Linked DNA regions of Homo sapiens. The protein of the gene in region 1 interacts with the protein of each later gene in a pairwise test. Each region holds a gene or a part of one and is shown in the gene's direction. Other genes may lie near its edges. The genes, in order: ERLIN1 and VMA12.

Region 1 (7,486 bases):
GCATTAGTATTACAAATGCAAGGGTATTTGGAAAATTGAGCACAAGCAACACATCAAGATTTGTTAGTTGTGGTTTTTGGTTTCACTATTTTGTTGGCACTTTTCCTCATGTGTAATATATCACCCTGACTTTTACCCTGGCTGAATTTGAAGGTACCTGTGTCATTGTTGGGTAAAACAAACATGGGTTGTACCTCTCCTTCAGTGTTTGATATCGTGAGGAACTATACTGCAGATTATGACAAGACCTTAATCTTCAATAAAATCCACCATGAGCTGAACCAGTTCTGCAGTGCCCACACACTTCAGGAAGTTTACATTGAATTGTTTGGTAAGTGTCTTAATTCTTATGTATGTAAATAGCCAATTGGAAATCTTTGTTCAGCTTACTTATTGAGGTTATATTGGTAAACCTTAGTGCTATTTAAGCATTTCTTCTGAATTTATCATAGAGCAATTGTCTTTAAAATATTTTTTATCTTAAGTTTAAAATTTTTTATATAACTTGTTAGAGATTGGAAAAACTACTCAGACTGTATTCTGTTTTTACTGTAATAACTTAGTGAAAATTAGCTTTGTTGATGTTTTAATAGATAATTTGAAAAATTTAGAAACCTGTGTCTTGAGGCTCCCATTTTTGATGATTTGGTAGGAGACTGACAGGACTCAGCACATAGTTGTGTTCACAGCTAAGATTTATTACAGCCAAAGGGTACAAAGCAAAATCAGCGAGAGGCAAAGGCACACCAGCAAAATGCAGAGGAAAGCAGGTGCAGGCTTCCAAGAGTCAAACATGTGCCTAATTCCCACAGCAACAAGCTGTGACAACACATGTGAAATGTTGTCTACTAGGGAAGCTCATTGGAGACTCATTGCCCAGGGTTTTCACTGGGGGCTGATTATGTAGGCACCCTCTGCCTACCACATAAAAATTCCAGACTCCTGGAAGGAATGCAGGTGTTTGGCATAAGCCACATTGTATAAACAGTTCACAGCAAGTCAATTGTATTAGCTCTGGGGATAGTGGGACCCTTCTACAAATCCAAGTTCCTAGGTGCCAACCAAGGACGAGTTTACAAAAGGCCTTTCTAAGGATTGCAGTATCAGCCCTGCTTTCTTAACTCACTTCTGTACAACTTACTTTTCATTTATGATAGTGGAAGTTCTGACCAGGGAATGAGTTGTTGCTGTTGGTAGCTCACTTTTCCCTCCTGAAATTTTTAGTGAATTTCTAAGATGAAGGAATAAGCAAGAGTAATCAATTTAAAATCTACCAATTGAGTCCTCTTTGGTGATTGTCAACCACTGAAGTGGCATGTGAGGAAACTGATGGGTCCTGCTTTGTCTCACCACCAGTCATTTAAATAGCGAAAGTACCATTGAGGTGAATAGAAAGTGCATAGTTACAAGCCCAAGTGTTCATGCTGTGTATATTTCAAATACTTTTCTATGAGCTTCTCTCTCTGTCTCTCTCTCTCTCTCTCTTTAAATCCAAAATAACAGTGAGGCTGAGATCCATGGAAATGAAGTTTAGTTATTTGGGAATTTGAGTAAAGATTTACTGAACATAGAAATTTGTTTTTCTTTGAGAATGAGGATACATATTGAGTAAGAGCCCTGAATTAAGATACTAGAGATCCAGATTCTCCATTTATTAGATCAACATATTTTACCCAGTAGTTGTTTATCCAGTAAATAAGTCTAATAAGTTACCCAGTAAAAAAGCTTATCCATAGTTAAGTAATACATTTAGTGGGTAAACTTATTGGATAAACAGACTATCTGCTTGTCATCTTCGTTCCTTAATTTCTTTATTAGATAATTCCTTGCAATTTTTTTCCCACACAAAAGGGAAGAAAAGGCAGTTTAAGCTCTGTAAAAGAATAGTACTGTGGAAACTTTAGGTCTAATAATGATTAGTTTTGTTTCATTATGAATACAATGTAAAAAAAATTGACTATCATGAGATCTGTTGTTCTTGGCTTAAAAAACAGATCAAATAGATGAAAACCTGAAGCAAGCTCTGCAGAAAGACTTAAACCTCATGGCCCCAGGTCTCACTATACAGGTAAGTTCTTTTCCTAGGGAAGTTCTCTGGGGATTTTGAGAGCTTTGAGTTTGTTCCTCCTTTCATTGGATTGTTTTATTCAGCAATTATTTGAGATGCTATGGTGATTTATAGAATACCTTTCTCAATTTGACTTTAGATCTCTGCCAAAATAAAATACTCTTGTAGCTTACTATGGGTGACATTTGTGAACTCCTAGAGGGAACTGATAAGCTGAGGCTCTTACAAGGAAGTAAAATTCATATTTCTGCCATGTATGAAGCATTAAGATACAGTAATGGTTATAAATCAGTGTAAGCATAATCCCTGCCCTCAGTAAGATTATGAAAAGGGAGTTCAAGTGTAAAATTTGAACAATCCTGGACAAAATAGTTATCACAAAGTATTAATTGACAGATGAATCTATTGAATGATTATTGCTGTAAGAGTAAGAGAACATTGGAAGACAGTGTGTCTAGGAGAGGGCTGTGATTGAGTTGAGATTTTAAGTAGGTTTGGAAAAATTAATTGGATTTAAATGGGGGAAGAATGAGAAAGGTATTTCAAGTGGGAGGGACAGCCCTAGTAAAAACAAGGTAGCAGGTGAATTTAGTGGTAGTGGTGATGGTGACGTTGGGAAATAGAATGGTGAGAGGTTTTACCCCTGCTTTTTTTTGGGTCACTGTGTTTTCCAGATTGTGGGTTGTAAAATCAACTTTAGTGAGTCATGAACAGCATTTTAAATAAAATGGAATAGAATAGGAAAAGAAATGGTATGTAATAAGTTTAAATATTCTGTGACACTTGTGTTTCACAGTGTGGCGGGGTAGGTGTTTATATTGGACGTCAGTGCAAAATGTGTTTCTTACTGTGTCCACTGTCAGTAACATTCGAAAGCCACTGCTCTGGATCCAGATGACCTAAGAAGTTATATTGAGGCTTCTCTAGTGTCCTTTCTCAGGAGCTCTAGGAGACCAGTTGATTGTTGATTGTTGTGATGAACATTACTGCAACTAAAGCTTATCACATGTCTCTCAATTCTTTACACTCAGCACCACTGCTACTGAGAGTGTGCGCTCACTGTGATTGTATGTGTTCGTGCTTCTCAAAAACAAGACTGAAAGATAGGTGGGGTTTTCCTCATGGCCTCATTCATGCAATGTCATTATCTCAGGCGCTTGAGGGTGAGCCACCAGAGTTAAGGGGTCGTTTGAAATGTCCAGAGGTAACTTTGTAAAATCCTCTGAGTTGTTCAAGTCAGTTGTAGCTGGAGTAGCTTTTTAGTTTTAAAGATAGTGAATGTGAAGGTCAGCTCTTAGATTCTGCCCAGGGTGTTACTCAGAGATCTAGCTCATTCAACTGTTGTTTAGAATTCCTTGCCTTATATTACTTAGCCATTTTTCTGTTCCCAGTTTTTTGCTATTAAACAATAGTGTAATGAACATTCATGACACATGTTCTTGTATGTACAAATTATCTTTCAAACTGACTGTACAAATGTACATTCTTAACAGCAATATGTGCAAATAATTGTGACCCATGAACTCACCAACATTGGAAGCAATCAGACATACTGATTGTTACCATATGGATGGGTGGGCAATTATATCTCCCTTTGATTTGCATTCCTTTGGTTGTTAATGAGGTTGAACATCTTTTGATACATTTATTGGTCATTTATACTGTCTTCTGCTGATTGCCTATTCATATCTTTTGCCCATTTTTCTGTTGGATTGTTTTCTTTCTTACTGATTTGTTCTGTATAAATTTGGAATTTTTATACACACACGTTATTTATGTTGTAGAAAAAAGTTAGATACTAGGAAAATGATGAAGAATAAAATGAAATTCACCAGTAATCTTATTATGCAGGGATAACATCATTTGTTATATCTTTCTCGACTATTCTTAATGTATATGAACAAATGTTTGTAGATATAAATGCATACATGCTCAACTAAAGCAGAATCATACCATACTTGCTTTTTTCACTAACATTGTCTATGAACATCTTTCCAAAACAAAAATATAGGTTTGGTAAATCATTACTTTTAATGGTTATATTTAGTGAATCTCTATGGTTTCAAATTTTTTACTACTGTATGCATGTTGGAATGACCAAGCTTATATATTCTGTACATCTTTTTAAATCCCTCTCTTACAATAAATTCTTGAAGTGGGATTGATGATCAAAGTGTATGCCCTGTTTGGGGGCTTATTGATACATACTACCGAATCACCTTTTAGAAAAATTTTAGCAGCTCCCCCCCTCATTAGCAGTGTTGGTAAGCTGTAGTTCTTACACATTTGATTGCATGATTGTACCCAAATAATTAGCAGATGCAAGCTTTCCCTTTCTCTCTTAATCCTTTTGGAGAAAATTAGTCTGTTATTTTGTGTTAATTATTGAAGTTGAATACCCTAGGTTATTAGCTGTTTTTATTTCATTTATAAATTGTTGGTTTTGCTCATTTTTGTAGTTAATGGTTTTTCTAACTGATTTTAATAAGCTATTTTTGGCTGGGCATAGCGGCTCACATCTGTAATCCCACCACTTTAGGAGGCTGAGGTGGAAAGCTCCCTTGAGCCCAGGAGTTTGAGGTCAGCTTGGACAACATAGTGAGACCCCTTCTCCACAAAAAATTTTTTTAAAAAATTAGGTAGGTGTGGTGGCATGTGCCTGTAGTCCCAGCTACTTGGGAGGCTGAGGTGGGAGGATGACTTGAACACAGCAGGTTGAGGCTGCAGTGAACTGTGTTCATGCTGTACTCTTGTCTGGGCAACAGAGCAAAACCCTGTCTATAAATAAATAAATAAATAGCATTTGTATATAGAGAACTTGTTTTTGAACCTTACCCTTTGAGAGGGGTAGAATTCGTTTTTAAAAATAAACTTTTTCATATGTTAGTTATTGTAGCTCTTTTTTATATTTATAGGAAACATTTTCTTCAAATTTTTTCTTTGTCATTTAACTTTGTTTTTTCCTTGCTGATAACTTTGAAGTGTTCATGTTTTACATAGTAATTTCAGTGATTTTGTCTTTATGGTGTGTTGCTGAGCTGGCATGTTTTAAGAGCTTTTCACCACCTTAAAAGTATAGCAATTAAAATTAGAAATTATAAAAATTGTATCTGCTTTTACAGTTGTATTCTTAGATTTAAATCTTTTAATTCATCTGCAACCCATTTTGATCTCAGTTGCAAGGTAGGCCTTCAGCTCCATCCCCTCAACCCCAAATTGGGTAACAGCGGTAATTACTGAATAGTTTATTTTTCCATCTTCCCCCTTCTTTGAAATAGTTTTTATGTTACATACTGCATTCCATTATATACTAGAGTCTTTTTCTGAACTTAGTTCTGTTCCATTGATCTTCCCATTCCTACTCTTTCATTAGTTATTGAGTCCTTGGTCTTTTCTCATCAAATCGAATTTTCTCCTGTGTTTTTCATCTTGTCAGTTAATGGTAACTCTTTCCCCTCAAGCCAATCTAGAAGTGTAGGAGGCATCTTTGACAATCGCCTCACCCTCAGCATCTAATCAGTCCCTATGTCCTGCAGATTCCACCACCAAAATCCATGTATTAATAAAACTGACCACACCTCCATCTTCACTGTCATCTCAAGCCAAGCTACCAACTCTAACCTTGACATGTGCAGTAGCAGTAGCCGCCTGTCTTCTTTCCCCACTTTCACTTTTACCTTTGTCTACTTCATTTTCTGCACAACAGCCAGAAGGATCTTTTGAATTTACTTATATTTATTTGCTGTTTTTATAAAAAGTTATTGATTGAAAAAATGTAGTTTTGTTATACGTTCTTAAAGTGGTAGAGATCTCCATTGTTTTAGGGTTTAAAAAAATTTTAAAATAATTTTTATATTTTGCAATAACTTAAGCATACCCTGAGAAGAGAAGAGCTCCTTTGCTTTGGTTGCTTTTGTCTTGTTATAAAATTTTTTTTACAATAGTTGGAATGCATTTTAAGAATTTCAAGGCTGTTTTTGAGCTTTGTTATTTTTAACACATTACCATATGGTTGTGATAATTCAACTTTTTATTTTAAAATCTGGCAAGAGACATCATCTTTTAAAAAATAATGGCCTTTGCTGTTTCTGCCAGCTTAATCTTCCAGATGAGTTTTCATTATCGATATTTTCAAGCTATATCAGGCACCTAAGTGGTCATATACATGTTGTTTTGTTTTGTTTTGTTTTGAGACAGGGTCTCCCTCTGTTGCCCAGGCTGGAGTGCAGTGGCATGATCATAGGTCACTGCAGCCTTGAACTCCTGGGCTCAAGTGATTCTCCTGCCTTAGCCTCCCAAGTAGCTAGGAGTACAGGTACACACCCCCACATCTGGCTAATTTTTTTATTTTTTGTAGAGATGGGCCTTTGCCGTGTTGCCCAGGCTGGTCTCAAACTCCTGGCCTCATGCAATCCTCCAATATAAGTTAAAAATAGAAACATAGTTTATGGCTTTACTTTATCATATCAGCCTTTTTGGTTTTTAGAATTTCTGATTTAGGGGAGAAACTCATATCCTAAGTTAAATTAATACCAATGGATTTAATGAATTTTAATGCTGTTCAATATGTAGTCTTTTTTTTTTTTAATCATTGAGGAATGTGATTGATTCTTGGTAGATTTATCTTATATCTACAACTTGAATTCACTGCCTTCTAGTAATTTTTGGGTTACTATTTTTACAGTCACTATTATATTTTTTTCCTTTCCATATATTTATATACCATTTTTCTTCTTGAAAAACTACTCTGGCAAATTAGAATGATGAAAATGGTCATCTTTGATTTTTTTTTTCCTATGTTATTTAAGGGAGTGACTATATTATAGACTGGCTTTTGATATATAATATATGCTTAAAACCCAGGGGTCAGTTTCAATACATATATTCCTTTCATTAGCCATTTTTTTCCTCCATTCACTCTATGTATGTGAGTGGGATGGGGGCATTATTTTATTATTTGAGGTTAAGAGCAGAGGTTTAATAGGCAAAAGAAACAGAAAGGAGAATAGCTCTCTCTCCTGTGAGGGAGAGGGGTGCCTGAGTGGGACTTCCCACTTTTACTTTTAAAATCTCTTTTGATGCAACTTACTCATGGTATCTGTACAGTAAGTGTTTATGTTTTCACATATTTGAAAATCTGTGAGATTTCCCAAGATTGGCAAGCACAATGTAGTATGTTCTTCAGCCTCATTCAGCAAAATAGGAGTCTTCAAAAGACAGTCCTGGCCGAGTGTGGTGGCTCACGCCTGTAATCCCAGCACTTTGGGAGGCCGAGGTGGTTGGATCACCTGAGTTCAGGAGTTCGAGACCAGCTTGACCAACACAGTGAAACCCTGTCTCTACTAAAAAACAATACAAAAATTAGTCGGGCTTGGTGGCGCATGCCTGTAATCCCAGCAACTAAGGAGGCTGAGGCAG
Region 2 (3,653 bases), on another chromosome or scaffold:
TACAAGACATGGTGGGACTCTCAGCGACCTGGGAAAGCAAGGTGAGGTACTAGGAGATCAGGCTTCTAAAACCTTTTCCTGAGATGGGTCATGACACTCAGGCTTGTTGTTTGACTGAAACCCAGTTGGTGGGGGAGCCATGAGATAAGAGCACCTCCTAGAGAATGTTGAACTAAAGGTGCCCTCTCTGGCTCCTCCCCAAAGTGAGATCATTGAAGGCTCTGGTCATCACCATCTTCAATTTCATTGTCACGGTGGTTGCTGCCTTCGTCTGCACTTACCTTGGAAGCCAATATATCTTCACAGAAATGGCCTCGGTGAGTAGGCACTGGGCAGGGCAGGGTGCCCCTGGTGGGGGTGTTAGTGGGTAAGGGAGGACGTATGTGAAAGTGCCTTGCACAGGTTAGGTATTGAACAGATATTTATGCCATTAATAAGGGGAGCATTAGAGCTTTCCAGCAGTCACGGGAGGTTAGGTAATAACCCCAGGAGAAGCCACATTCTCTTTTCTTCCCCTCCCCCAACTTAGAGGGTGGTTGGGGGGCTCTCCATCCTCATTAAAGTTGCTGGGGTACAGAGCTGGTTGTTGGCCTGCATCCCTTAAGCCTGGTTCTCCCCATCTCCAGCGGGTGCTAGCTGCATTGATCGTCGCCTCTGTGGTGGGTCTGGCCGAGCTGTATGTCATGGTGCGGGCAATGGAAGGCGAGCTGGGAGAACTGTAACTGGTGCTTCATCATCAAGTCTAGAGAAGACTTTGGGGGCTTCAGGCTCCAATTGGCAGTCACCGACTCAGTCAACCCATCAGACTTTTTGTATTCAGCTCCAGTTAGTCAGAAGACCAGCCCAGGCCAGCTGCTGTTTCTGTGGGGAGCCCTAATCTTCTGTGAATTTCCAAAGGGAGCATTGGAGGAGATTGAGATAACACATCTTTAAAACAGAAAGAACTGGTCTTGGTCTATCAGTACCTCTTCCTGAATCTGGTACCCATCTGCCTTCTCCAGTTCATTCTAAACACTGCTGGGACTAGGGTTTTTCCATCAGGAGCAAATGGAATCCAGGCCTTCCCAGAAGTAGACCATACTGCCTTGAACTTGTCCATATGTACAAACTGATCACCAGCTTTCTCCATACATTTTTAATGCAGACCTGTAATTGAGTTCAGAAGCCTCCAAGAAAACAGAAAGGATCCCCTTTCTCCAGTTTGTGCTGGAAGAGGAGCTGATCAGAGACATCAAATAAGAGAAAGATGGGTTGCTAGAGGATGGTAGAACTGGAAGCAAGGCAGCTACCTTTTTGCAAAAGGAAATGGTGTTAGGCCCCTTTTCCAGAAGATAAGACAGACTCATAGAGATTAAATGATCACTATGGTCCTTCTTCTGTTAAATGGAGCCAAAGACGCCTATGTTGTTCTGAAGTCTTGTAATGTTTAACTTCTGAGAACTTAGATTAGTGGTGTGATGATAGAGTCTGTATAACGCATTGAAAAGGGTATCAGGCTTAGTTATTTATCCAATAAATATTTATTGTATGCAGGGTATTCCTATTTTAACTCCTGTGACAACACAAAGCATAGCGATTTCCATAGTTCTAACTGTTCAGGGTCTGCTCCTCCTGGTACACTCTTTTTGGTTCACTGTATGTACTCCTGTTGTCTTTTTTTTTTTTTCCAAAGCACTTTTCTGTTTTCATAAATTATATACTCATTCACTCAGTGGACACTTCCTCTACAATGTTTGCCAGTTTCTGTTAGTTGGGAGAAGTGTCAGCTGTGAAAAGAAAAAGTAGGTGGCATTTTACAGTGTTTCCAGTAACCTGAGCTATATAAAATTTGTGTTAAAAAGCTACACTGGGCCAGGTGAGGTGGCTCACACCTGTAATCGTAGCATTTTGGGAGGCTGAGGCAGGCGGATCACTTGAGGTTGGGAGTTTAAGACCAGCATGGCCAATATAGCGAAACCCCATCTTTACTAAAAATACAAAAAAATTAGCCAGGCGTGGTGGTACATGCCTGTAATCCCAGCACTTTGGGAGACCAAGGTGGGAGGATGCTTGAGTTCAGGAGTTTGAGACCAGCCTGGGCAACATGGCAAAAGCCCATCTCTACAAAAAAACGCAGAAATTAGCTGACATGGTAGCGCACGCCTGTAGTCCCAGCTACTCAGGAGGCTAAGGTGGGAGGATCACTTGAGCCTGGGAGGCAGAGGTTGCAGTAAGCTGAGTAAGCCAAGATCATGCTATTGCACTCTAGCCTGGATGACAGAGTGAGACCTTGTCTCAATGAAAAAGCAGGGGGCACTGGGAGGGGAGAACCAAATGCCCTATCCTCCAGTTCTCAGCATATAGAAGGGAGCTCTCTCATCTGCTAGCCACTCCTGCCTCACTGTGCCATGCTTTCTGTAATGCACTCTGGGTCCAGGGACTGCTTGGCAGGAGGTGGGAAGAACAAGAAGTTTAGGGCCTTCCCAGTTTCTTAGGGCCTGTCTGGAGAGGGAACTAGCGTTTACTGAGTTTTTACGATGTGTTACACACCATGTAAAGCCCTTTACCTACATTATTTCTTATACCCCAAACAGAGAGCAAATAAGTATCCCCATTTTTTAGTCACATAGAGTTCCAGAGTTGCCACAGTTACATCGCAAAGTCAGGATTTGAATCCAGTGCAGACCGCAAACACCATGGTTTTCTCTCCAAAGCAGAGCAGCTCCAGAGGTGGAGGTGACTGGAATGTCCTAGATTCAGTGGGACCAGGAGCTGGGGGTGCTAGCAGAGGCTCTCATCTCCCCAGGGTCTTGTCAGTCAGAGTCCTAAACCCTTCAATTAACTATCCCTCTAATCCCAGCTGAAGCCTGGGTAATACCTCCCACCAAGAGGTATCTGTGTGGAACCTGGCCCTATTTAGGGATTAGGTGATGGAGATAAATTTCCATGGCAAACGGCCCTCGTCCCCGTTCGTTTGCAGAGCACAACAATCCAGATTAAGGTACAGAGTTTGGGTTTTATTTGGAGATTAGTTGGTATTACAGGTGATGGTGATACCAAAACCCAATGCTGCTATACCTGCCTCCATCCCAGATCTGTCAGGTTGTCTCCACAGCCCCACATCAGAGGGCATCCAATCTGATCTTTGTGAAAATTAAATCAACATAAGCCCCAGCTTCCTATCTTTGCTTCATTACTTTAATGCCACTCCCTCTTCACATCCGTAGTTCTGATTAATTTGTCCAGGTGGTCGATGGTCAAGAGAGGGGGCCCTGACCCATAAAGAAGTTGGCTCTCCAGCAGTCTAGATGAGGAGCAGCACTCTCCTCTCCTACCTCACTTAGCAGTTAGCAAGGTAATGGCCTGGAGAGACCTCAGGAGACAGGAGCCTGCCCCTTCAGAAGGAGGAGGCCATCAGCTGGTGAGAACTGGGGACCAGGCCTGGCAAGAGTGGAGGAAAACATGACCCTCATCTCATCCTTCTGAAGGTACCACCTGCCACAACAATGAGCATATGCCCCAAAGGGGTCAGGGTGTGGGGTGGCAGGAGCCAGGCCCCAGTCTGCTTAGGACCTGCATCTAGGCTGGCCTGGAGGCCAGTGGAAGGGAGGGATGCCTGAGCTAAACTCCTTTCCCGTAGGGAATCCCTTTGCATAAAAAGTGGGGCCAGGGAA

The links.
Region 2: the proteins of ERLIN1 (region 1) and VMA12 interact in binary tests that used the Homo sapiens proteins (3 or more experiments, as listed by UniProt).

Annotation. Positions count from the first base shown.
Region 1 is NC_000010.11:100,168,790-100,176,275, reverse strand, and holds part of ERLIN1 (erlin-1), read left to right. Parts: intron 1-205; coding exon 206-331; intron 332-1,994; coding exon 1,995-2,068; intron 2,069-7,486. UniProt on the Homo sapiens protein: Component of the ERLIN1/ERLIN2 complex which mediates the endoplasmic reticulum-associated degradation (ERAD) of inositol 1,4,5-trisphosphate receptors (IP3Rs).
Region 2 is NC_000017.11:28,360,531-28,364,183, forward strand, and holds the end of VMA12 (vacuolar ATPase assembly protein VMA12), read left to right. Parts: coding exon 1-41; intron 42-123; exon of another isoform or gene 124-204; coding exon 205-317; intron 318-626; coding exon 627-722; 3' UTR 723-3,153; downstream 3,154-3,653. UniProt on the Homo sapiens protein: Accessory component of the proton-transporting vacuolar (V)-ATPase protein pump involved in intracellular iron homeostasis.